Homo sapiens: one gene and its partners. The protein of the gene in region 3 binds, or shares a complex with, the protein of the main gene of each other region. Each region holds a gene or a part of one and is shown on either strand. Other genes may lie near its edges. The genes, in order: NCBP1, PPARA and PPARGC1B.

The links.
Region 1: the proteins of PPARGC1B (region 3) and NCBP1 are in contact, whole or in part, in a crystal structure (PDB 6D0Y), measured with the Homo sapiens proteins. Residues at the interface, in NP_573570.3 of Homo sapiens: Tyr1006, Glu1007, Ala1008, Met1009, Asp1010, Phe1011, Asp1012, Leu1014, Leu1015, Lys1016, Glu1017, Ala1018, Gln1019; in NP_002477.1 of Homo sapiens: Glu26, Asp29, His30, Ser33, Leu34, Lys37, Val38, Lys41, Ser42, Ala43, Cys44, Asn49, Gly52, Leu53, Val56.
Region 2: the proteins of PPARGC1B (region 3) and PPARA are in contact, whole or in part, in a crystal structure (PDB 3SP6), measured with the Homo sapiens proteins. Residues at the interface, in NP_573570.3 of Homo sapiens: Ser154, Leu155, Leu156, Gln157, Leu159, Leu160, Leu161, Thr163; in NP_001001928.1 of Homo sapiens: Val284, Thr285, Thr288, Glu289, Lys292, Phe297, Leu302, Asn303, Gln305, Val306, Leu309, Pro458, Leu459, Glu462, Ile463.

Annotation. Positions count from the first base shown.
Region 1 is NC_000009.12:97,657,821-97,664,820, forward strand, and holds part of NCBP1 (nuclear cap-binding protein subunit 1), read left to right. Parts: intron 1-819; coding exon 820-923; intron 924-3,125; coding exon 3,126-3,248; intron 3,249-4,221; coding exon 4,222-4,324; intron 4,325-5,133; coding exon 5,134-5,227; intron 5,228-6,519; coding exon 6,520-6,623; intron 6,624-7,000. UniProt on the Homo sapiens protein: Component of the cap-binding complex (CBC), which binds cotranscriptionally to the 5'-cap of pre-mRNAs and is involved in various processes such as pre-mRNA splicing, translation regulation, nonsense-mediated mRNA decay, RNA-mediated gene silencing (RNAi) by microRNAs (miRNAs) and mRNA export.
Region 2 is NC_000022.11:46,145,568-46,153,576, forward strand, and holds the start of PPARA (peroxisome proliferator-activated receptor alpha), read left to right. Parts: upstream 1-4,958; 5' UTR 4,959-5,085; intron 5,086-5,220; exon of another isoform or gene 5,221-5,610; intron 5,611-6,320; 5' UTR 6,321-6,403; intron 6,404-8,009. UniProt on the Homo sapiens protein: Ligand-activated transcription factor. Key regulator of lipid metabolism. Activated by the endogenous ligand 1-palmitoyl-2-oleoyl-sn-glycerol-3-phosphocholine (16:0/18:1-GPC). Activated by oleylethanolamide, a naturally occurring lipid that regulates satiety.
Region 3 is NC_000005.10:149,725,761-149,733,309, reverse strand, and holds the start of PPARGC1B (peroxisome proliferator-activated receptor gamma coactivator 1-beta), read right to left. Parts: upstream 3,001-7,549; 5' UTR 2,968-3,000; coding exon 2,890-2,967; intron 486-2,889; exon of another isoform or gene 420-485; intron 1-419. UniProt on the Homo sapiens protein: Plays a role of stimulator of transcription factors and nuclear receptors activities. Activates transcriptional activity of estrogen receptor alpha, nuclear respiratory factor 1 (NRF1) and glucocorticoid receptor in the presence of glucocorticoids.

The DNA of each region.
Region 1 (7,000 bases), on a different chromosome or scaffold from region 3:
CTATGAGGATTATTTATTTTGATGCCCAAATTGTCCCTGGTATGTACATGAGGAGCCCCGGTAAGCTCTCTCTCTCTCTCTCTCTCTATATATATATATATATATATTTTTTTTTTTTTTTTTAACGTCCCCAGCCATTCATTGAGCATTCCCTTATTTTCTAGAACAACATATTTAGGATCATCTTGCGTTTTCTTGCCCTATCACTGGAATCATCTATTTATTCATGGAGCCCTAGTTTCTAGTAAAGTAGTAATGGAATATGGTATTTAGGAGCCAAGATCTGGGCACTTGATATGCTCATTGCCATTGGGGTGTCATTGGTTCTAAGCCTCTTGGTGGACACACATCCATCCATCCATAACTGTTTTTATGTCCACCTGTGTGTATATATGCCTCCAATTCCAACTCAATACCTTATTTCTACACTTCTTCTCTACCATGATTTGTAAACACCTTCTCAGGCAGTAACAAACTTGGCTTCCATTATCCTCAATATTTATTTATTTGATAGAATATAGCCAGTTTCCAAAGCGTGCAGTCATCTCCACCATGCCCCATCATCACCCCACATACTTGGCCACCAGGCTCATGAGCTCACTCACCCGCACCTCAGTGCAAGCCAGTGAGTTTTGCAGTATGCCTGAGATTTGGTGTGCTGGCTTAGACAAAAACTCAAAGGATTTTTTTTTCCCTTTCACTTCTTGGTTGTCAGCTGAGTTCAAGTTGTTGGAGATCATGACTTTCCAGGTAAGTCGGGTGTTACCGAAGAATGGGACTGATAAAAGATATTTTCTGAGGCTGTTATTTGTATTGTAGGTTGTCTTACCATCAGCGTATATTAGATATTGTTCCTCCTACCTTCTCAGCTCTGTGTCCTGCAAACCCAACCTGCATTTACAAGTATGGAGATGAAAGTAGCAGTAAGTAATGAAACTAATCCCTCTGTCTTTAAAAGGTACCAGTTCAAGTATATCTGAAGTTAGTTGTTTAAAGTGGAGAAATTGAACTTTTTCTTTTCTTGGGGTTTATATTTCCTGTATTTGAAAGGTGGTCTATCATTAGCCACTGTTTTATTTGCCCTGTCATCATTTTGAGGATTTGGTTGTGATAAAATTAATTACTACTGGCTTATCATTTTTTCTCTTTTGAATGTGTTAAGTATAGCAAGATGAATTTATAGTTAGAACTTACTAAACTGAAAACGTGTATTTGTCATGGTGATGGAGGTTACTTGAATTCATTATCTTGTTCAGGTGTGGTATTGAGAACATAGATGCACATATTTGTGGCAGTATGCCTTTAAAAGTAAATTCTTAATTATGATTTTCTTACCTTTTGGTCACATAATCTCTGAAATTGCACCATAAATCAGGGAGTGTAATTTGATGTGCCATTTTGCCCTTTGCATAGTATTTACACTTAATGAAGGTAAAGTATTATACATTGTTGATCACTGGTAGAGTTAGGTGTGGAGTTTTTCCAACTTGTTCTTTGCAGATTACACTTAACACAGCCCCTCCATGATCCTTCCATTTTGTGTTGTGTAGAGGTTCTTTGTATCTCACAACTTTCTGCTGTTCTTTGCTTTTCATACTGTGTGCCTGTTTCTCCACCTCTGTCTCTGACTGTACCTGTTTTCCTTGAAATGAACTGTGTCGGTCCTGGTACATTTCCTATTTCATTATGTCAACTCTGAAGAATAGATATGATTATCAAAACTACAATGAGGAAATGACTTCCAAGAGGTCAAGCTAGAATGAGATTGCTTTTGAGTGGTGGAGCCCAAATTCAGGCGTAGGTGCACTAACTGAGTGGCCATGCTGTTAGCCACTGTGCTTTTTGGCAGATCAAAGGTTTATGCAGTACTTAGAAGTGCTGGGTTTTGAGTTTTGTCCTGTACTGGTTCCGAGAATGATAAGGTGTAGTCTTTGCTATCAGAAAGCTCAGGCTTTTGTTGAAGATTAAGCTTTCTTTTTGCCCCATAGGAATAACTCCGCCTAACATTCAAGGCCTTCATAACCATTGTTCCTACTTTGTTATTTTTCACTTCTCCCCACATGGACCTCTATTTCTGCCAGGTCCATGTACTTTTTTATTTTTTCCATACTCCCTGTTCTTGACTTTGCCATTACCCCAGTCTGGAAAGCCCTTTCTAGCTCCACTTCCTTTTCTCCTTCTAGATTCTAGCCCAAGCTCAATAGCTGTAAATATTTTTTAACCGTTAGCAAGCCAGTTTTGTATTGCTTCCTGGCTGTGTCTAATGTGAATATCTTGGTTCCCCAGCTAGAATGTAGACTGGTGACAGGGGATTCTGTTTTTCTTCGCCTTCTTTTTTTTAGAGAAAAAGCTCACAGCAGGTGTAATATGACTGTCCTCACATGACTGTTGTAATTTACTTTATTCATTCCAGTAACTCATACTCTATAACAGGATTGCCTTTTTTGTTACCTCTTTGTCTACCTTACATTAAAAGCAGATTTCTTGTTGCTCTGGTGATGCCTTACGGTGTATATTAGCACAAATTTTTATAATAAGGACTCAACTGATACCAACCAATAGTAAATACAAGGAGTCCCATCACGTGAGCATCTGACTTACGTAGATTCAAGCTTGTGGACTCAGCAAAAAAGAAAAGTACAAAAACAAAACCTCTCTGAAGTTGGCAGCCATTACCTTGTTGAGACTCAGACTTCATTTCCACGGTCCCGAGGAAAGAAAGAGGAAGTGGGTGTTGGCAAAATGAAAGAGAAGTACGTTGGTTCTGGGATTTTGAGCCCAGGAGAGTTGAGGGCATTAAAAGACAGTTTAACTGTGTCCACTTTTCTCCTTACCATTCATCTTGAGGATGATCAGCACCTTGTGCTCTAAATTTTACTTAGCTAAGTGTCCTTAATGAATTGTTGAAATGAGAATTGTCCCTTTTTAGGTGAAAAACCATTAACCTATTAGAAAAAGCTTTCACATACGGTATTTATATGTGATTAAATATTGACCTTGGGATAAAGAGCATCCTATTTTGAAAGGAAGAATTTAAAAAAAATTTTTCTCAGTTATTTAACTGTTCATTAGAATAGTCTTGAAACCTGATCTGTCATTCCCCTTACCCCCAATTCTGTGTTTAGATTCTCTTCCTGGACATTCTGTTGCCCTCTGTTTAGCTGTTGCCTTTAAAAGTAAGGCAACCAATGATGAAATCTTCAGCATTCTGAAAGATGTACCAAATCCTAACCAGGATGATGACGACGGTAAGTGGAATTCAGTATTTCTTAAGTGGAACTATGTATAGGCCAACTTAAAGCATAAACATAACTCTGGCAACATGATGCTCTTAAAGCAATATATCTATATCTGTTTGACCTGTTCAGACTGTTGTTCTTAGCACCCCAGGTATTTTCCCCTTATATAAAAAGAGATCCTAACATTTCTGTGATATAGCTTACTTAAGAATATAAACTTCATCGTAAATACAAAGTGAAATATGTTACCATTCAAGGATTTTTAACCCCTGCTTTCACCATAGAGAAGTTCCTGAATAGAAAGACTTGGTGTGTTATAAAGTTGGATGTTTTCTCCAAGTTAAGCTATTAGAATAATAATGTTTAACATTTACTCAGTTATATACCATGTAATTCCAACCAGAATCCTAGGAGTTTTTCTGGGCAAGAGTGGGAAAATTGACAAAATAATTTATACAGTTGCCTGAATCAATAAATGGATATGCACATAGAAAAACTACTGAATCAAAATAAGATATTAGTGGCCTTTGGGTATTTATTACTGGGATTTTGTTTGGATATCTCTAAGAAATTTGTATTATGATATTAGAGAAAATGAGTTTAGAAAGAATAAGCCAAAATGATGGCATTAAATTCAGATGTTGTCAGACATCTTAAGACATAAGCTTAAGTGTTTTTTTTTTTTTTTTTTGGTATTAATATAATAGAGGCTATGAATAAGGAAACCTGTGTGATTTTTTTTTTTCAAGGAATGGATGATAGAATTAAGACAGTCACATAAAACTAAGACTTAAAATTACAAGTGGTTTCATATTTTCAGTGTTTGAAATCAGTGACGGTCTTTTATTGTTTATTAGAACCAAAAAACATTACACAAATATCTGTGTATAGATGTGAGCAACCATCTATTTAGCATTTGAGGTAAGGCACCAAGGAATTGCTGTGCTTACATTTTTCTGTTTTACTATAAAATATTTTTCAGATGAAGGATTCAGTTTTAACCCATTGAAAATAGAAGTCTTTGTACAGACTCTGCTACACTTGGCAGCCAAATCATTCAGCCACTCCTTCAGTGCTCTTGCAAAGTATGTATGAGTACAGAGCCTTGCTTGAGAGTTTGGAATTTTGCTTGGTGAACACCAGTGGTATGGTAATTTTTACCTAAGATTGTTGAATATGAAGATCTTAATAGTGTATAATTGGACACAGTGGGTTTGGGTTTGTGGTAGCTGAAATCCATATCCTAAGGCTTCCGTCAGTCTGTTTGTACAGTTGGCATATGTACATGGTAAGTGCTTTTTTTCATATAGACATTTAAAGAAACTAGTGAAAAACCTAGGTTTTTGGGACAGTCATATGCAGTTGGAAGTTCCCACGCTAAATATCTTTCCAAAGCAATGTAAGAAGAAATTAGAATCAGCTACACTGTTGGGAGTCACGCAAAGGTTGGCATCTGAAGACAGGTATTTTTAACTTGTCAGACAGGGTCCAAAGGAAGAAAGAGCACATAGATTTTCCTTCTGCCAAGCAGAGAAACTGGACATCTCACCCCATCTCTGTCTCCAAGGCTTTATATTACTTGCAGGGTTCCCACAGAAGATGCAGTTTGAATATTTCACCATGTTTGAAGACAGTTCCTTAGTCCTTACCTATTCTTTTAAACTGTAGCCCTGGGCTAACGGTAGTATATTGTAAATGTCTTGAGATTTTGTGACAGCTTCCTTAAAAACTATCAATCTGTGATCACACTTTTTGCATCCTTAATGGTTAATACTTAGTTATTTTGCATTTATATATTGCATTATAAATTGAGTAACATTGAAAAGGCTTTGAAAACACTAAAATGTTTAATGAATAAGTATATATGGTATTTTTTTCCCATCATTATCAAAAGGTTTCATGAAGTCTTCAAAACCCTAGCTGAAAGTGATGAAGGAAAGTTACATGTGCTAAGAGTTATGTTTGAGGTCTGGAGGAACCATCCACAGGTAAAAATTATTTAATTAGACATGTTGAAGCTCTGATTGTATGGGTATAAAAATAAGGCCGTTAATTGCCATTGTTTTGTTTGTAAAACATGAAATTTGACTCTGCCTAGATAATGGTTTTTAGATCTAATTCTTTCAGTGCTATGGGAGTAATGATGTTTCATTCATTCTTGAAAGAGTAAGCATTATTATGATTTGGTTTTGAACTATAATATCTCAATATGTTTTAAATGTTCAGGAAAAGGTTTATCTAGTCTATCCAGTTTCTAAATGCAAGCTCCAGATTTCTCAAACCTTGATATATATTGTGTATGACAAAGAAACATTTAAATAAATTTCATAAAACAGTGAGTGTGTAATGATAAAACATTGTTTTACATTTAACTTCTGGGGTTCATTGAAATTATGTATTTTTTTGAATACGTATTAGTACCTGAAATTTAAATTTTTTTTTGGAGACAGAGTCTCACTCTGTCACCCAGGCTGGAGTGCAGTGGCGCAATCTTGGCTCACTGCAACCTCCGCCTCCCGGGTTCAAGTGATTCCCCTGCCTCAGCCTCCCGAGTAGCTGGGATTACAGGCGTCCACCACCACACCTGGCTGATTTTTGTATTTTTAGTAGAGATGGGGTTTCACCATGTTGGCCAGGCTGGTCTGGAACTCCTGACCTCAGGTGATCTGCCCACCTCGGCCTCCCAAAGTGTGCTAGATTACAGGTGTGAGCCACCGCGCCTGGCCAGTTTTTTCAAATTTTAACTGTTACCATTCAGAGTTTTTGTTTAGTCAACCTGTTTCTTGTAGTGCTAGAGCAAAGCAAAGGGGAGAATAAATCTTAAGACCTAATGATCAGGCCAGGCGTGGTGGCTCTTACCTGTAATCCTAGCACTTTGGGAGGCCGAGATGGATGGATCACTTGAAGCCAGGAGTTCGAGACCAGCCTAGGCAATACAGTGAAACCCCGTCTATACTAAAATTACAAAAATTAGCCAGGCATGGTGGTGCACACCTGTAATCTGAGCTGCTCAGGAGGTTGAGGCAGGAGAATTGCTTGAACCTAGGAGGTGGAGGTTGCAGTGAGCTGAGATCGTGCCACTCCACTCCCGCCTAGGTGACAGAGCAACTCTGTCTCCCAAAAAAAAGACCTAATGGTCAGATTGATCAATCAATTCCATAGCCACCAAAACTAAATTTTATAGCCCTCCTATTTTACTTTTATAGCAGCAGTGTGGTGGCACATATATATGTGTGTGTATGTGTGTGTGTGATTTACTTGAATAATTCTCTCATTGTAGATGATTGCTGTACTAGTGGATAAGATGATTCGTACACAAATAGTTGATTGTGCTGCCGTAGCAAATTGGATCTTCTCTTCAGAACTATCTCGTGACTTTACCAGGTAATATAAATTATTTTATGAAACTTGTGTTCCCTAAGAATTGATATATGTGTGGTCTCTTATACATAAGCTTCAAATTCTGGTCCAAACCAGGTTGATATTAATATACTAATGGTCCAATCTGGTAGGATTGGACATGGCAAAAATTCCTAGACAGTGGAAACATACACAGCCTATCAGGTTGCAGCGTCTCTTAGCAGGGACACTCTTAAGTTGAATCAAGGCTAAGCCAGTGAAGTAGAAATCCTGTTGAAGGATCCAGACTGTTGGGAGAGAAAACTAGCAAGAGCCAGCTATGTGCAGAGTCTCAGCTAGTCCAGATGGAACTCGGGAAGGGTTCCAGCTTCAGTGGGGATGGCACCTAGAATGCACACCAG
Region 2 (8,009 bases), on a different chromosome or scaffold from region 3:
ACACAGGAGGTGGTGGCCACACAAGGCAGAGGGCAGCTTTGGCAGGGGGACGGTTGCCAAGCAGGCTTCCTGTAGGAGGCAACTCTTGACAGAGCCCTCAAGCTGGTGGTTACCATGTCCCAAATATGACCCACTCATCAGGCCCCACCCTGCACCACCCCCGTGCTCCCTCCTCAAACTCACACCAGGACCCATCCAGGAAGGCGTCCCTGCCCCATTTTAGAGATGAGGGGGCTCGGATAGCATCACCGGCTGGAGGTTGTAGTTTGAGGAAAAGGTACAGGAGGATTTGAATCCAATTCTGTTGAACTCCAAACCCCAGGCACCCACTCATTCCATGAGGGAAAGTTGGGGGACAGTGCCCACGTGGCACGGTGCTGTGCACGTAAGCTTGCCTGTCTTGTGTGTTTCCAGGCTGTCATGCCAGACCTCATCTCTGCACTTGCAGTCTTCCCTGGCCGCAGCAGTGCCACTCACTGCCAACCACTGGGTCAGATCATTGCAGAATCCAACTCCACACAGAGCAGATTGTCCTTTATGGACCAAATATGTCTATCTGGTTGGGCGCAGCGGCTCACGCCTGTAATCCCAGCACTTTAGGAGGTCAAGGCGAGCGGATCACCTGAGGTCAGGAGTTCGAAACCAGCCTGGTCAACATGGTGAAACCCTGTCTGTATGAAAAATACAAAAAATTAGCCGAGTATGGTGGTAGGTGCCTGTAATCCCAGCTACTCAGGAGGATGAGTCAGGAGAATCACTTGAACCTGGGAGATGGAGGTTGCAATGAGCCGAGATCTCACCACTGCACTCCAGCAAGGACATAAGTGCAGAGCAAGACTCCATCTCAAAAAGAGAAGAGAAGAGAAGAGAAGAGAAGAGAAGAGAAGAGAAGAGAAGAGAAGAGAAGAGAAGAGAAGAGAAGAGAAGGGAAGGGAAGAGAAGAGAAGAAAAAAGAAAAGAAAAGTAAAGAAAGAAAATCCGTCTATCTACACATCACACTTTGCAGTGAGACTCCCACGGCACCTAGCATGACACAGGGAGGGGTCCTGCAGCTTCCAGTCCATGTCCTGGACTGGATAAACAACATCCATGATCTAGCCCTGGAGCTGGATCCTGTGTGACGAGGTGGACACCTGTCCCTTTGGAGGGGCAAAGAAGGGAGGCAGTGCAGCTGCAGGTGGGCTGCCCTGTTCTTCTCAAGATCTACAGAGACAGACATCTGAGCCATGTCGAATGGGCCCTGCTGCAAAGCTGGGGACTGGTTAATTTTCAAAGGGTACAGTGTCATGACAGCAGCAGTTTCTGGACCTGCGGAAGCTTCCAGATCCTGCAAAGCTAGAATGGGTGCACAGCTTAAGCCCCTCCCCACCACCTCAGCTGTGACCACTGGTTAACATGTAGCATGCAGCACTTGGTGCTAATCAGATGGAGTCATGCCTCTGCTGACAACCCTCCATGGCAGGTGTCCCACAGCCCTTAGGACCAAAGTTAAACTCCTCACTGGGCTGCAAGACCTGCCTGGCCAGGGCCTTGCCCAGCTCTGCCCGCTTTGTGCCATCTCCACACTCTCTCCCCTTGAATGTCTCCTGCCACAGGCTTCTGCACATGCTGCTGCCACCCCCCTGGAGCTGTGGGGCCAGGAGCAGCCACCAGGGAAATCTGATCCTTGACCCTGGGCTCCTGAGTCTGCCAGAGGCTGCCGTATCAGCCAACAGACAGCTTCTGCAACAGACAACCGAACCCCGGGGGTACCCAGGGCCAGGTGCTGATGGACTGGGACTCGGGAGAGTTCTCACTCCCTGCCGGGGACCTTGGCCACATGCTGCCATTCCTGGCCCTTCGTTCCTCATCTGTAAGATGAGCATAAGCACAGCTGCCTTGTGGGACTCTTGTAGATTCTGTCCCCTAGTATGACAATACTTTGTTACCTTGGACCCATGGGGTTTTGCTGTCAGTACCAGGATGGCAACTAAGGACATGCCCATGGTTGGCCCTCACCGACGAGGTCCAGCCTTGGGTCGCCAAGCAGCCGCCTGCTCGCTGCCAGTGAGCCCTCCCTTTCTCAGCCCACGGCCCCTGCCCCGGTGGACTTCCACCACCTGACCTGCAGGCACGCTTCCAGGAGCTCAGAGGCCACTGCCCTGGCGGATGACACCCTGGAAGCACACACTCCCCCTTGACAGAGAGCTTTGCACATCAGCAGAGGGCAAGCCAGCAGCAAACTTCGCAGGCCCTGGCTGGCAAACAGACTCCAGCCTGGACCCCAGGCCCATAGGAGAAGCTTCACCCTGGCAGGGTCAGGGAAAGCACTGGGGTCCCTGAACACAGATGACCGTCATCACCTGCTCCCAGCACTCAGGGTCTAACTGCTGCCCTGTACTGAGCGGCCAAGCCCTATCACTCCAGGTTGCCTCCTCCAGCAACCCCTTCCCGTCTGAATTCCCAGCTTCCCAATTCTTTCCCTGAGGCTGTGGGAGAGCCTCGGCTTCTCTGGCTGGCTGGCAGGTCAGCACTTGCAGGAGAGAGCAGCTCAGCAGGGCAGACGTGGGCTTTACAGACCTGCCTTCCGTCCTGCGCCCTGCCGCTGGCCTGGGGGACCCAGTGCAGATGGGGCTTCTCTGTGCCTCAGTCTCCATCTTGCAATGTGGGCACAGTAATAATTACCCTCAGAACATCTTCCGGATCAGAAAATGTAAAAAGGGACCTGAGACAGCATTGTCACCACATAAATGGTAGCTATGAACTAAGATCCATATGCACCAGATGCTCCCAGTAGTCACTAAGGCGCCAGAGAGGAAACTCAGGTGGTGCTCAGAGACATTTTCAGGAGCACTGATTTGTCCTCAAAGTTACAGATTTCTACTCAGTCCCTGCGCCAGCGGTGTTTCTGTTCTGTCGTGTGGCCCTCATTTCATCAGCACTGAAGAAGGTAAAGAGAGACTTCCTGGAGCTGGGAATGGGGGTGAGGGTGTGCCCTTTGTGACAGTTGCTCCCATGCTGGGTGTGTGACAAGGTCTTCGTGGCCAACAGAAAATTGCTTCATCTCTCTCATCTGAGCGTGGTTTCCCAGAAGAAACCTACCACCCCCGGGAAGCATGGATATGGGGCTGTTTCTGGCCAGGATACTCCCAAGAGAAGAGTCCTGAACTTGCTTCTACCCTCAGGACGCCTGCGGGAGACTGGCTGACAGCATTTGATTGAAAATGCTTATTTCTGGGACACATGGATGAAAAACAAGTTTTCTCTCCCTAAAACCTTGGGAGCCCCAAAAAACCCAAGAATATCACTTTCCTATGTCTGCTGAGTGTACGTGACCACTCTGCACACCCCCACATAGCCTTTGTCCTTGTTCATGAGAATGTTCACTAGGTCTTTCAACACCTGGTTGACCTGGGTGGTGCATCTGGGTCACACACCTGTGTGGACCCTGGTCCTTGAGAGTCTGGGATATGGGTATGCCAGGTAATGTCTTTGAGCCCGGAGGTCCTCATGAGGATGTAGCCCCTGAGCTCTGCGTGGGCAGCCCAGGGTCAGCTTCCCTCACCAAACACAACAGGATGACAAGCTTGGATGTGGCTGCCTGCACACCCCACGAGATATGCAGGATATTACGTGTACAGGTCACCCTATAAACTCTGAAACAACATAAATGATAGCTATTGCTGGCTAACATGTGCAAGAGAAGGTGAGGTTGCCGTGTGCCAGTGGGAAGGATATGTGGGTGTCTGGAGGGTGGGGCAAAGTTCACCATAGGTGCCTGGCTAATCAACAAGGGTGAGTTTAAGAGAAGTTTGTGAAAGGGCCAGTTCCCGCCTGATCTCCAGTTCCCCTGCCTAATGAGATCTGGGTTTGCTTTCCGGAGTGGGTCCTCCTGGGCGCCCGCTGCCACAAATAGCACAGTGGCAGGCACAGCTGGCAGCGGAGGGCAGGCAGTGGAGCGGGCATAGCACACATTGCGTTCCCGAGGAGGGGAGCCCTGATGTGCCGGCACCCAGGGGCTTTGTGCATTCCGCTCCGGCAGCTCGAGCGTCACGGCCCGAACAAAGCGGCTTTGCAGGGCGCTCTCCTACTCCTCGCCATTGGCCACCGGGCCGCGACCTCTCCTTGCTCTGGCAGAGTCCCAGCGCCTTGCGTAGGCACAAAGTCAGCCCCTCACCCCCCAGCGCATGAAGTAGGGGCGGGCATGGCTCTTGGGCCGCTGGAGAGGGGTGGGGTTGTGGGGTCGGAGCTGGCGGCGCCTCCCCGAGCCCGTCCGCGTTGCCCTTCACCCTCCTCGTTCCCCCGCCCACCACACCGCCCTGGCACCTCCCGCCACCTGTTTCCTTGTCCTCCCAGCTCGCCTTCCCCTTCTCCTTATTTTGCATCCTGGGGTTCCAGGGACAAGGTCCCTCCCGGGCCGCCTCCCACCCTACGCACTTCTGAGCCTCAAGGGCACCCGGTCCCGGGTCCCGGGTCTAGACCGGCTCATCGCACAGAGTAGCAGAGCCGGGCTCATCGAGGAGGCAGGAGGGGCTCGCCAGCGTGGCACGGGCGCCCGGCGGGAACCTCCACCCGCCCCGCGGCCGCGCGTCCCCGCCTCGAATTCAGCCCCGCCCCGGTGCGCCGGGCTGGAGGGGCGCTGACGCTCAGCGGTGTCCCATCGGTGACCTTGGACGGTCCCTCCACCTCTCCGGCCTCAGTTTCCCTTGGCTGCAGCGGCCGCGGGGCGCTAGGTGGGAGCCGCTGAGCGCTCCCGGGGCCCCGCCCACCGCGAGCAGCCAATCGGGCGCCGCCCTCCGGGGGGTGTGTCCCGGGGCCGAGGCCCGGGGCCCGGAGGGCGCGCGGGGCGGGCGGGGCTTCCGGGTCGGGCCTCGGGACACTGGCTCGCGCGGACCGGGGCAGGGGGCGGGCCGAGGGGCGGTGCGTGTCGCGGGGGCGCGGCTGGCACGGACGCGCGGAGGCGGCGCCGGGCATGGGCCGTGGACGCGGCGGCCCCGCGGCGGGGGCAGCGGGCGGCGGGGGCGGAGGCGGCCGCTAGCGCCCTGCCCGGCGCCGCCTCCTTCGGCGTTCGCCCCACGGACCGGCAGGCGGCGGACCGCGGCCCAGGTGCCCGGGGGCGGGCGGGCGGGCGGGCGGGAACGCGCGCGGGGGTCCGCGGTCCGGGCTTCCCAGGTCCCGGGACCCGGAGGGCGGCGGACGGGGGAGGGGCAGGGGCTGGGCGGCGCATGCGCGGGGCCCGGGGTCTCGGGGTCTCCGGGTCCCGGGGACCCGGGGGCCCGGGGTGCGCGGCTGGGGACCTGAGGGCGAGGAGCGAGGACACACACCGAGGACTCTTGCGAGGGATCTCGGGGCCCAGCTCGGCCTCCCTCCTAGCGCTGGGGGCCTGCCCGGAACCCGAGTCCGCGGCTGTCCCTGGGGTTTGGCGCTGCGCGGAGGTCGGGTCTGGGGACCGCAGCGACTCTGGGTCTTCGGGTTGTCCCCTCGGAGGGAGGGCCCACGGGCGGGGACATCGGGACTTGCCCTTTCCTCGGCGCAGCGGAGCTGGGGCGTCGCCGACTCAGAAGGTGCTTTCCGAGACCTCCAGGGATCTCCGAGGCGAGGAAACCCGGGCCCCGGACAGACCGACCCTGGGTGGGTGCGCCCGGCTTCTGCCGTCGGACGGAGACGCGCGTGTTTGTTCCTCCAGCTGCGACCACCTTTGAGGAACGGTTCCCACTTTGTGCCCCAACGCGGCGGGGCGACCCCGGACAGGCTGCGCTGGGCCGGGTGGCTTCTCTGCGGAAGCCGCGCCACGTCGCTCCCGGTCGGGGCCGCTGAGGGTCGGGCGCCCAGGTCTTTCCGGAGTCCCGGGCTGCGCGGCCCGCGTGGTGCGGGTGAAGCTGGAGGGGCGCGGGGTGGTGCCAGTGGAAGTCAGGAGGGTCGGCCCTGCCCCCTCACGCACCCCAACCGGGCACAACTGCACGCCTGTGCTTTTCTGAAGTCTTTTTTAAAAGTTAAAAGAGAGGAAGTGTGCTCCAAGTGTCAGGATTCTTTCCAAGAAAAACCCACAGTTGTCCAATGGCCTGGGCTTCGTGGGACCTCCGGGGCTGCACGCCCACGTCAGCCTCAGCCGACCCCTGCCAGGAAACCAGGGAGGCCCCTCCTCTCCCAGCCTCCTTGGGATAAGGGTGCCTTGGGGAACTGGGTCAGGGCAAGGACACGGGATTTTCCTGGGAAGGACCCTGCGACACCCGTGTCGTTGCGGGGCAGGGTCAGCATGACTTTCCTCTTCCAAGGTGAAGAGTTGGGGGGCATCCAGAGAACAACCGTAATCACTTCCTCCTTCACCTTCTTACTGCCAGGCTGAAGCTCAGGGCCCTGTCTGCTCTGTGGACTCAACAGTTTGTGGCAAGACAAGCTCAGAACTGAGAAGCTGTCACCACAGGTAAATAGAAGGTTTAATTTACTGTTTCCAGATGGAAATATTTAAGTGTTTTCAGTGTTTACTTCTGTTGCACTACAGACCAGCAATCTGGGGGTTATTACTTTGTGATGCAAGGTTAGATACGTTTTCAGACTGAAAGTAAAATACATGTGCATGGATTCATTTTTTTTTTTTTTTTTTTTTTTTGAGACGGAGTCTCGCTCTGCCGCCCAGGCTGGAGTGCAGTGGCCTAATCTCAGATCACAGCAACCTCTGCCACTGGGGTTCAAGCGATTCTCTTGCCTCAGCCTCCCGAGTAGCTGGGATTACAGGCGCCTGCCACCATGCCCAGCTAATTTTTGTAGTTTTAGTAGAGGCGGGGTTTCACCATCTTGGCCAGGCTGATCTTGAACTCCTGACCTCATGATCCACCTGTTCCTCCCAAAGTGCTGGGATTACAGACGTGAGCCACCGTGCCTGGCCTAGGATTCACTTTGAAGTTCTGAGTTATTGTGTGACTTTTGCTAGGAACTTCATTGCTTCGTGGCAGGCATGTTTTGTATAATTTAAAACTTGATGACATTAACTTTGAGAAACGTGAGTGCTTACTAGACCCTTGGGATGTCCACACTGACTGGTACCGAGTAGTGTACTGTCTCTGAGCTGTTTTCATTTTGATTTGAATATTAAGCAGATGGCTTCTTGAGATAGACCCGTGCCAGAACATGCCAGGGATAGGCTGAAGAAACGGGCCAGATGATACAAATTTGTGTGGTCACCATCCATGAGAGACCAGGGACACTGGGGCTGATGATGACCTCTGCAACTCTGAAGCAAAAGTAAACTAATTGGCAAGTTGGGTGCGGTGGCTCACTCCTGTAATCCCAGCACTTTGGAAGCTGGGGTGGGCAGATCGCTTGAGGCCAGGAGTTCGAGACCAGCCTGGCCAACATGGTGAAACCTTGTCTCTACAAAAAAATAGAAATATTGCCTGGGCATGGTGGCGGACATCTGTAATCCCAGCTACTCAAGAAACTGAGGCAGGAGAATCGCTTGAGCCTGGGAGGTGAAGGTTTTAGTGAACTGAGATTGTGCCACTGCACTGCAGCCTGGGCGCCAGGGCGAGACTCCGTCTCAAAAATAAATAAATAAAATAAAATTAATTAACTAATTGACATTAGAAAAAAATGTTTTTTCTTTCTTTTCCCACATCCTTTTTTTTTTTTTTTTTTTTTTTGTGACAGAGTTTTGCTCTTGTCACCCAGGCTGGAGTGCAGTGGCATGATCTTGGCTCACCGCAACGTCCACCTCACGGATTCGAACAATACTCCTGCCTCAGCCTCCCGAGTAGCTGGGATTACAGGCACTCACCACCACACCCGGCTAATTTTTGTATTTTTAGTAGAGGTGGGTTTCACCATGTTGGCTGGGCTGGTCTCAAACTCCTGACCTCAGGTGAACCGCCTGCCTTGGCCTCCCAAAGGGCTGAGGTTACAGGTGCGAGCCACCGCGCCGGGCCCTTTTCCGACATCTTAAACGTAAAGTAGGAGACGTGTCATAATCATCGAATACTGCAGTGGTTTTCATTAGCTCCTGTTTGTCAAACTTATGAACAGAGTTTTAAAAA
Region 3 (7,549 bases):
TTTCCAAGAAACTTTCGCAATCCTTGTTCTGCTAAATTTCCGTACTTTGGCCCCAATGGGTAAAAGTTAAGTCTCCTAAACAGAAGTCCTCCCTCTAATCTAACCCTGGATTAGCCACCAAAGACAACAACAATCTTTTGGGACAAAGACAATGAATTACCATTTAATCCACTTTCCCCAAAGCTCCCAAAGGGAGATGAAGGAGGGGAGGGTCAGGGAAAGTTTGGGGGAGGAGAGGGGGTTGCAGGAACAACCAGAACATCTCACATGCAAACACTGCTCACCCCCACCACCAGGCCATTGGATTCTCTTGCGGCACCACCAGCCCCATTTGACAGATGGAGGAAATGAGGCTCGGAGAGTTCAAATGGCTTGCTCCGGGGTCACCCAGCCAGAGAGTGGGGAAGGTGACTCCACTCAGGCCTTCTGACTCCAAGTCCAGTGCTATTTCTAGGTAACACACAGGACCTGGAGTCAGGAGCCCTGGGTGGCTCTGTCACCCTCTGGCTGCATGGTCCCATACAAGCCGCTCACTCCTCGCAGCCTCTTTCTCCAGCTGTAAAATAAGGAGGAGCACACTGGGCCCGCCCAGGTCCTCTTCCGGCTGGGCTCTCCGAGCCTTCTAGGGGCGGCTCAAAGCTCATCCTATCAATTACATTTCCCAAGTTGGGCCGGCAAAGATCACCAGAAGATCCTCGGCCTGTCATGTGGTTAAATAAAAAAAGCAAATGTCCCAGATTAACTTTCACTGCACTGCTCCTGCAAACACCTGAGTATTCAATTTTCTAGTTTCCTTAGTTGAAATATTTCTGCTAGCTAGGCTCGCTGGGCGGCTAAAGGGCAAAATAATTAATTATTGCTGAGCCAAACACTGAAGATCGAGTTAAAATCCGGGGTACAGTCCAAAGCGGACAGTTCTTGACATGGGTCCCTGAACGAGTCTCCGGCTATTTCAGGCCTCTCTCATCCGCTTTTCAGCCAAGAGATTCGGAGACGCCCCAGGGCAATTTCGAGATCTGGGGACAGAATCTTCCCAGGAGTGACTCTGCCCCTCCTCCCGCACTCAGTGCCCGCTAGCCCCAAGCTGTCGGCTCTGGGGGTACTGAGGCTGGGACCTGCCTTCGGCGCAGACACCGGCGCGGGGCGTGTGACGGAGCCCGGCGACGACGGCGGGAGCTCCACCGCAGTTTCGTCAGAGGTAAAGGTACGCGCCCGGCGCGCGCGGCGTGTGCACACACACACACACACACACACACACACACACCCGCGCGCGCAACCCGCTCATCACACATTCCCCTCGATCTCGAGAAGCGCAATCACACGCCACTAGCCCCTCCGGCCTCTGCCGCGAACCCACCCGAGCGCGCCCGCCACCGACCACGCGGCCCCGCGGCTCCCCTACGCAGCGGCGTCTGCAGCGGGCCAGGGGCGGCCTGCCTCCCGCGTGGCGGGCTTCCTCTCGGCGACACCCTGCCACGCCACGCCGTCCCAGCCGCCAGCCCGAAGTCGCTGCCCGGAGCTGAACGTCTCGGCTGCGGCGTCCCTTCCAAGTCGCGTTTCACCGCAAGGAGTCAGCTTGCAAGCCTCTCCCCGCCCACCCGGTCCCATGACAGCTGCTGCCGCCCAAAGACAGGCAGATTATAACAAGAAGCAAAGTTTCCCTCTCTCTCCTCCCACCTCCCTCCCCCAATCTCCGCCTTCCCCCTCCCTTCCACTGTTATGCAAAACGGGCCGGCACCGGCGCTCCCACTCCAGGTACCAAACCAGCCCCCGCGAGCCGCGCCCGGTTCCGCCCGGCCGCCCCTCTCCGTGCCCAGGCGTGTGCCAGCACCCGGGGCTCCTCCGAGGTTCCGCCGCATCCTCAGCTTCCCAATGACCCGCAGCCGGGCGCCCAGAGAAAAAGCCCTAACTCTGGAGCCAAACTTTATGCTTGCAACAGGCATTGGGTGGGGAAAATGGGGGAAGGGGTGGGGGCCGCGCACGCCTCGTGCTGACATTTTTGGTGGCTGCTTGTCCCAGCAGCACCCCTCTCCCAGTCTCCAAGCCACCAGCTTCCTCGCTCCCCCGCGCCCCGGCACACCAGAGCACCCTCTCCTGTCACGCGCGTGTCGCCAGTGGGGCTCCCGGGCTCAGCCAGTGCCTGGGACTCCGCCTCGCCTTCCCTTCCCCCTGCATCGTGGAGCGCGCACCGGGGCCGCGCACCGCAGGGGGACCCAGGCGCCCCCAGACAGTCCTTCCGCCCCCATCCAGCCTGGCTTTTCCCCCCAGGGGGCTCCGCCCGATAGCGAAACCAGGAAGACGCTGTCTCCGCCCGCATGTCCACGTGCCCCGCAGACCCTTATGCCTTTAGCCGGCAACTGGCAGGAAACTCCGCGCTGCGGGCGCGGGTAGAAAGCCGCGGGGGGCCAGCAACAGCACTCTGGGGACTACAGCCTGGAGGACTAGGGGACTCCGGAGACCCGGGCATGCACCCGTGCCGGGGCCACAAGTCCACGTGAAAGTACGGCAGCAAGTGCCGGGCGCTGACGGCGCGCCTCCAGCACCCAGCGCCAGCCTGAGGGTACCCCACACCGTGGCGCGCCTCCACCTCCCAAAGGAAGCGCGGTACCCCCCAGTTTTGCCCGCGGGGTGGCAGACTCCAAGCGGCCAAGGCTAGACCCTCCCCAGCGGCCGTAGCGCCCCCAGCGCTCCGGCACGCGCCGGGAGACCTCCGGCTCCCTGCCCCGGTAACGGAGCGCATCGCAGGGCGCCTGGAAGGGGGGCTCTGCAGCCTGGAACCCCCAGTTACCCCAGGGCTCCCACCGCTGCCTCCCGGCCTCCGCGGCTGCAGCTGCGGCCCCCGCAGCTCAGCACCCCTGGCCCCGGGCCCGCAGCCCCAGCCGGCCGTACCTGCGTGTCAGCGAGATAGTTGAGGAAGAAGGAGGAGAGCTCTTCGTCCAGCAGCGCGCCGCAGTCGTTCCCCGCCATCTTCCAGCCGCGGCTGCAGCGTGCGGCGGAGTCAACGCCGAGCCGGCCCGGGGGGAGGGAGCCAGCGAGCGAGCAAGGGAGGAGGGAGGAGGGAGTGAGGCCGGCGGGAGGCGGAGGGCGGAGCTCGAGCCCCCGGCTGCCGCAGGGCCGCTAGCTGCGGGGGCGGGGCCGCGCGGCGCCCGCGGGAGCCGGGGGTCGCTCACCCACTTTCCTGCGCCGTGTCTGGCGCCGCGACCAGCTCACGCAGCCCTCAGCAAGGGGTAAAGCGCAGGCAGCCAGGTGGCGGTGCCCCAGCCAGCAGCCCGATGCCTGCGCAGCAATGCGGGCAGCCCCCGGCTCCTGCCAGAGCGAATCACGTTGCGTTAGCGCTGGGCGGGTCCTGCGAGACAACCTGCTTCTTCTGCACAGCTGGGGAAACTGAGGCTCGAGAAGGAATAGGACCTCGTTCGAAGGCCGGGCGCAGTGGCTCACGCCTGTAATCCCAGCACTTTGGGAGGCCGAGGCGGGTGGATCACCTGAGGTCAGGAGTTTGAGACCAGCCTGGCCAACATGGTGAAACCCCGTCTCTACTGAAAATACAAAAAAAATTAGCCAGGCATGGTGGCGGGCGCCTGTAAGTCACTCTTCATATCCCTCCTGAAAAAAAAAAAAAAAAAAAAATATATATATATATATATATATATGTATGTATGTGTATATATATGTATGTATGTATGTATGTGTATATATGTATGTATGTATGTGTATATATATGTATGTATATATATGTATGTGTATATATATGTATGTATATATATATGTATGTATGTATGTATGTATGTATGTATGTATGTATATACCTAGGACCTCGTTCAAAGCTACAGCGCACATCAGTTGCAGGAAGGGAAAGCTTAGGTCTTACTCCCCTGGAGGACTGTTTCTCTACCCAGGCTACAAGGCCAGAGAAGGAGGGAGAAATACCATAGATCAAAAGCAAAGAAATCAAGGAAGTCTCCTTGGAGGAGGAGGCATTTTTATCTTTTACTTGAAGGGTGCGTTTGCCTATATTCTGTGCTAAACCTGATCATATATCTCTCTCTGCCATCGTCCCCAGCACCCTTCCCCCAAAAAACTCCAATGAGTTCTCTTACCAATGCCCACAATGCATGAAGGGGCTGGGCTCCTGCCAGCCTCCGCAGGCCCGCTCACAACGGGCTTGCCACTCACCTAGTAATCTCTTCGGGGCATCTTTCCCTATTACCCCTTGGACTGTCAAGCCATTTCCTCTCCTTCCACCTCCACCATCATGGGCTCCCTTAGCTCCACCAGCAGGCCTTTTTTCTCTAAAAGCTGGTCACAGTTGCCGTTTTACATTTGTTGCAATGAAGACTTAATCTTTGTATCTCTCCTTACAAGACTCTAACACCATGAAAGCAGGGCCTAAATCTGCTTTTGCACTTGCTGTATCTGCCGTTTCTGGCACATAGTAGGCACTTAATAGATGATGTGTTAACTGAAAAAGCTGGAGAATTTTGATTCTCTGCCACCACCACCACCACACATTATACAGATAAGGAAACTGACTGTCAATGTGTACATGGAGTGACTGCCTGAGCCAGAACCAGAACTCAGACCTCCTGACTCCAACCTTGAACTCTCATCATCATGCCCTGTTGTTTACCAAACAGGAGATGAGGGCACTGCCTGGATGAAGGCAAGAAGGCGGGAAGCTTTAGGTCTGTTTTATTGGGCACGCCTGCCTCCTGCCCTCCTCCCACCCTACACTCATAAGGGCTGCCCCACCCTGCCCACCTAACAAGGGCTCCCTTCCAGCGGGAGAAGGAAATAGAGGGAGAGTCCCCAGCACACCTGCTGAGACTTGAACACCAGGGCAAAAGCTTCCTTCTCCAGTCTGAGGTTCCCAGAACCGCAGGCCGTGATTTCACTCTTTGGGCTTAAGGCCAGTGTGCTTTTAAGGAACAATGCATTCCAACAGAGAGCCTGCATCTAGCCTCAGAGCCCTAGACTAGGAGTTAGGAGTCCTGGGTTCTGTTTCAGACCCTGCATCTGGATACTGGAACATCTTGTTCCAGTATCCAGCAATTCAGGGGGTGAAGAGCGTGGGCCCTGGAGTCACACTGCCTGATTTGGAACCACAGCAAGTCATTTAGTCTCGGGCCTCGGTTTCCTCATCTACACAAATGGGGACCAAAAAACCACCAACTTCATAGGGATGTTTTGATGATTGAGGAGATAATATATGTACAGTGCTTGGCACAGTGCCTGACCTCATGGAGAATACGCTAAGCGCTCTGTTCTGTTTCCCTTCTGTTAAAATGGGAATAAGAAATATATATCCCTTAAAGGCACTAGCCAATGTTACTTGCCTTTTTTCCAGCACTTACAGGCTGCTGGCGTACTTTGGACTCCAGTATATTCAGATTTGAATCCTGGTGCAAACTAGCTATGTGCCCTTGGTCATTTACTTAACCTCTCTGAGCCTCAGTTTCCTCATCTGTAAAGTGGGGATAGCAATGGTACTGCTCCACATAGGGATCTTGTGAGGATGGATTGAATGAAATAATGCAATTCATGTAAAGTCAGTTGCCTGGCCCTGAATCTTGCAGGTAGGAAATGCCCATCATCACTATAATCATCACCAACATCACCAATGTCATCACCATTAGCACTAAGGACTTGAATTCTCCCAAGACCCCATTTTTTTTGCTACTCCCCTGGGCACCAGAGTCAGAGTCCTGTGGGATGGTTTCTGGAGATGTCCCTTCCAGGCCCAGCCTGGCCCCTGACTGGTGGTGTGTCCTTCATAGCCCAGAGGCCAAACTTGGGAGTGTCCCCAAAGCCAGCCATCTCTAGCCTTGGTCCTTGCAGAGCTGCAGTGCCATTCACTGCCTTGCCAGGGAAGGCCTGACAGCACTTTCCCAGAGGCTTTTTTGTTTTTAAAACTCCCGTGTTGATAGAAAAGCCACACATTGCCCAACGTCAGGGACTTTCTCACCAGTCACTACATCCTCACAACAGTCTTCTGGCTGGCAAGAAATTTAGGTGAGAAAGGGCCTCACCTGAGATATCTAGCGTCCTTTTGAAAAGCATATTGTCCCAGAAATTCCTTCATCACAGGTTGCTCACAGAGTCTCAGCCTCATGGAGGAATTTGAAGTTCCTCTGGCCCATGGAAAAATGTGAAGTTCTTAATTGAGATTAAAAGTCCTGGCCTGGGTGTGGTGGCTCATGCCTGTAATCCCAACAATGGAAGGCTGAGGCCAGAGGATCACTTGAGTCTAGGAGTTTGAGAACAGCCTGGGCAACATAGGGAGATCCCATCTTTACAAAAAATACAAAAAAAAAAAAAAAATTAGCCAGGGTTTATGGTGTACACTCGCGGTCCCACCTACACTGGAGGCTAAGATGGGAGCATCACTTGAGCCCAGGAGGTTGAGGCTGTAGTGACCTGTGATCATCACTGCCCTCAAAAAAGCCTGAGACCCCATCTCAAAAAAAAAAAGCCCTCAAAAAACCTGAGGTGCTAGATGATCTTGTGCCATTTGCTTCTCCTCTCTGAGGCTGTTTTCTTATCTATAAAATGAAGGAGCGGCCTGGCCTGGTGGCTCACGCCTGTAATCCCAGCAGTTTGGGAGGTCGAGGCAGGCAGATCACCTGAGGTCAGGAGTTCGAGACCAGCCTGGCCAACATGGTGAAACCCCATCTCTACTAAAAATACAAAAATTAGCCGGGTGTGGTGGCGGGTGCCTGTAATCTCAGCTCCTCGGGAGGCTGAGGCAGGAGAATCGCTTGAACCTGGGAGGCGGAGGTTGCAGTGAGCCTGGGGGTAAGAGCAAGACTTCGTCTCAAAAACAAAAAACAAAAAAACGAAGGAGTGGTCAGTTGGGCGCACTCCAGCCTGGGGACAAGAGCGAGACTTCCTCTCAAAAAAAAAAAGAAGGAGCAGTCCGGGCGCAGTGGCTCACGCCTATAATCCCAGCACTTTGGGAGGCTGAGGCAGGCTGATTATGAGGTCAGGAGATCTAGACCATCCTGGCTAACAGGGTGAAACCTCATCTCACTAAAAATACAAAAAATTAGCAGGGCGTGGTGGCCCCCGCCTGTAGTCCCAGCTACTAGGGAGGCTGAGTCAGGAGAATTGCTTGAACCCAGGAGGCGGAGGCTGCAGTGAGCTGAGATTGTGCCATCGCACTCCAGCCTGGGCGACAGAGCAAGACTCCGTCTCAAAAAAAAAAAAAAAGAAGAAGGAGCTAGCCTAGATGAACCTCTACAGAGTCCTGCAGCCCGGATGTTATGGCAGTTTATAGACATCAACCAAACCTTAGGGCTTTTCTGTACTGAGCATGTGCCCAACGCCTGAGTTTATAGCATCTCTAATCCTTCCAGCAACCCTCCGTAGGGTAAATCATGATGTCCATTTTATGACTAAAGAAACAAAAGTTTAAAGGGGGTTAAAGTGATTGGCCCCAGACTACATAGAGACAACAGCTCAGATTTGAACCTGGGTGTGTACATGGTCTGAGCCACAGACACTGGAAAGGGAGTGTGAAAAGTCTCATAGCATCTAACCTCCCCAGGAAAGC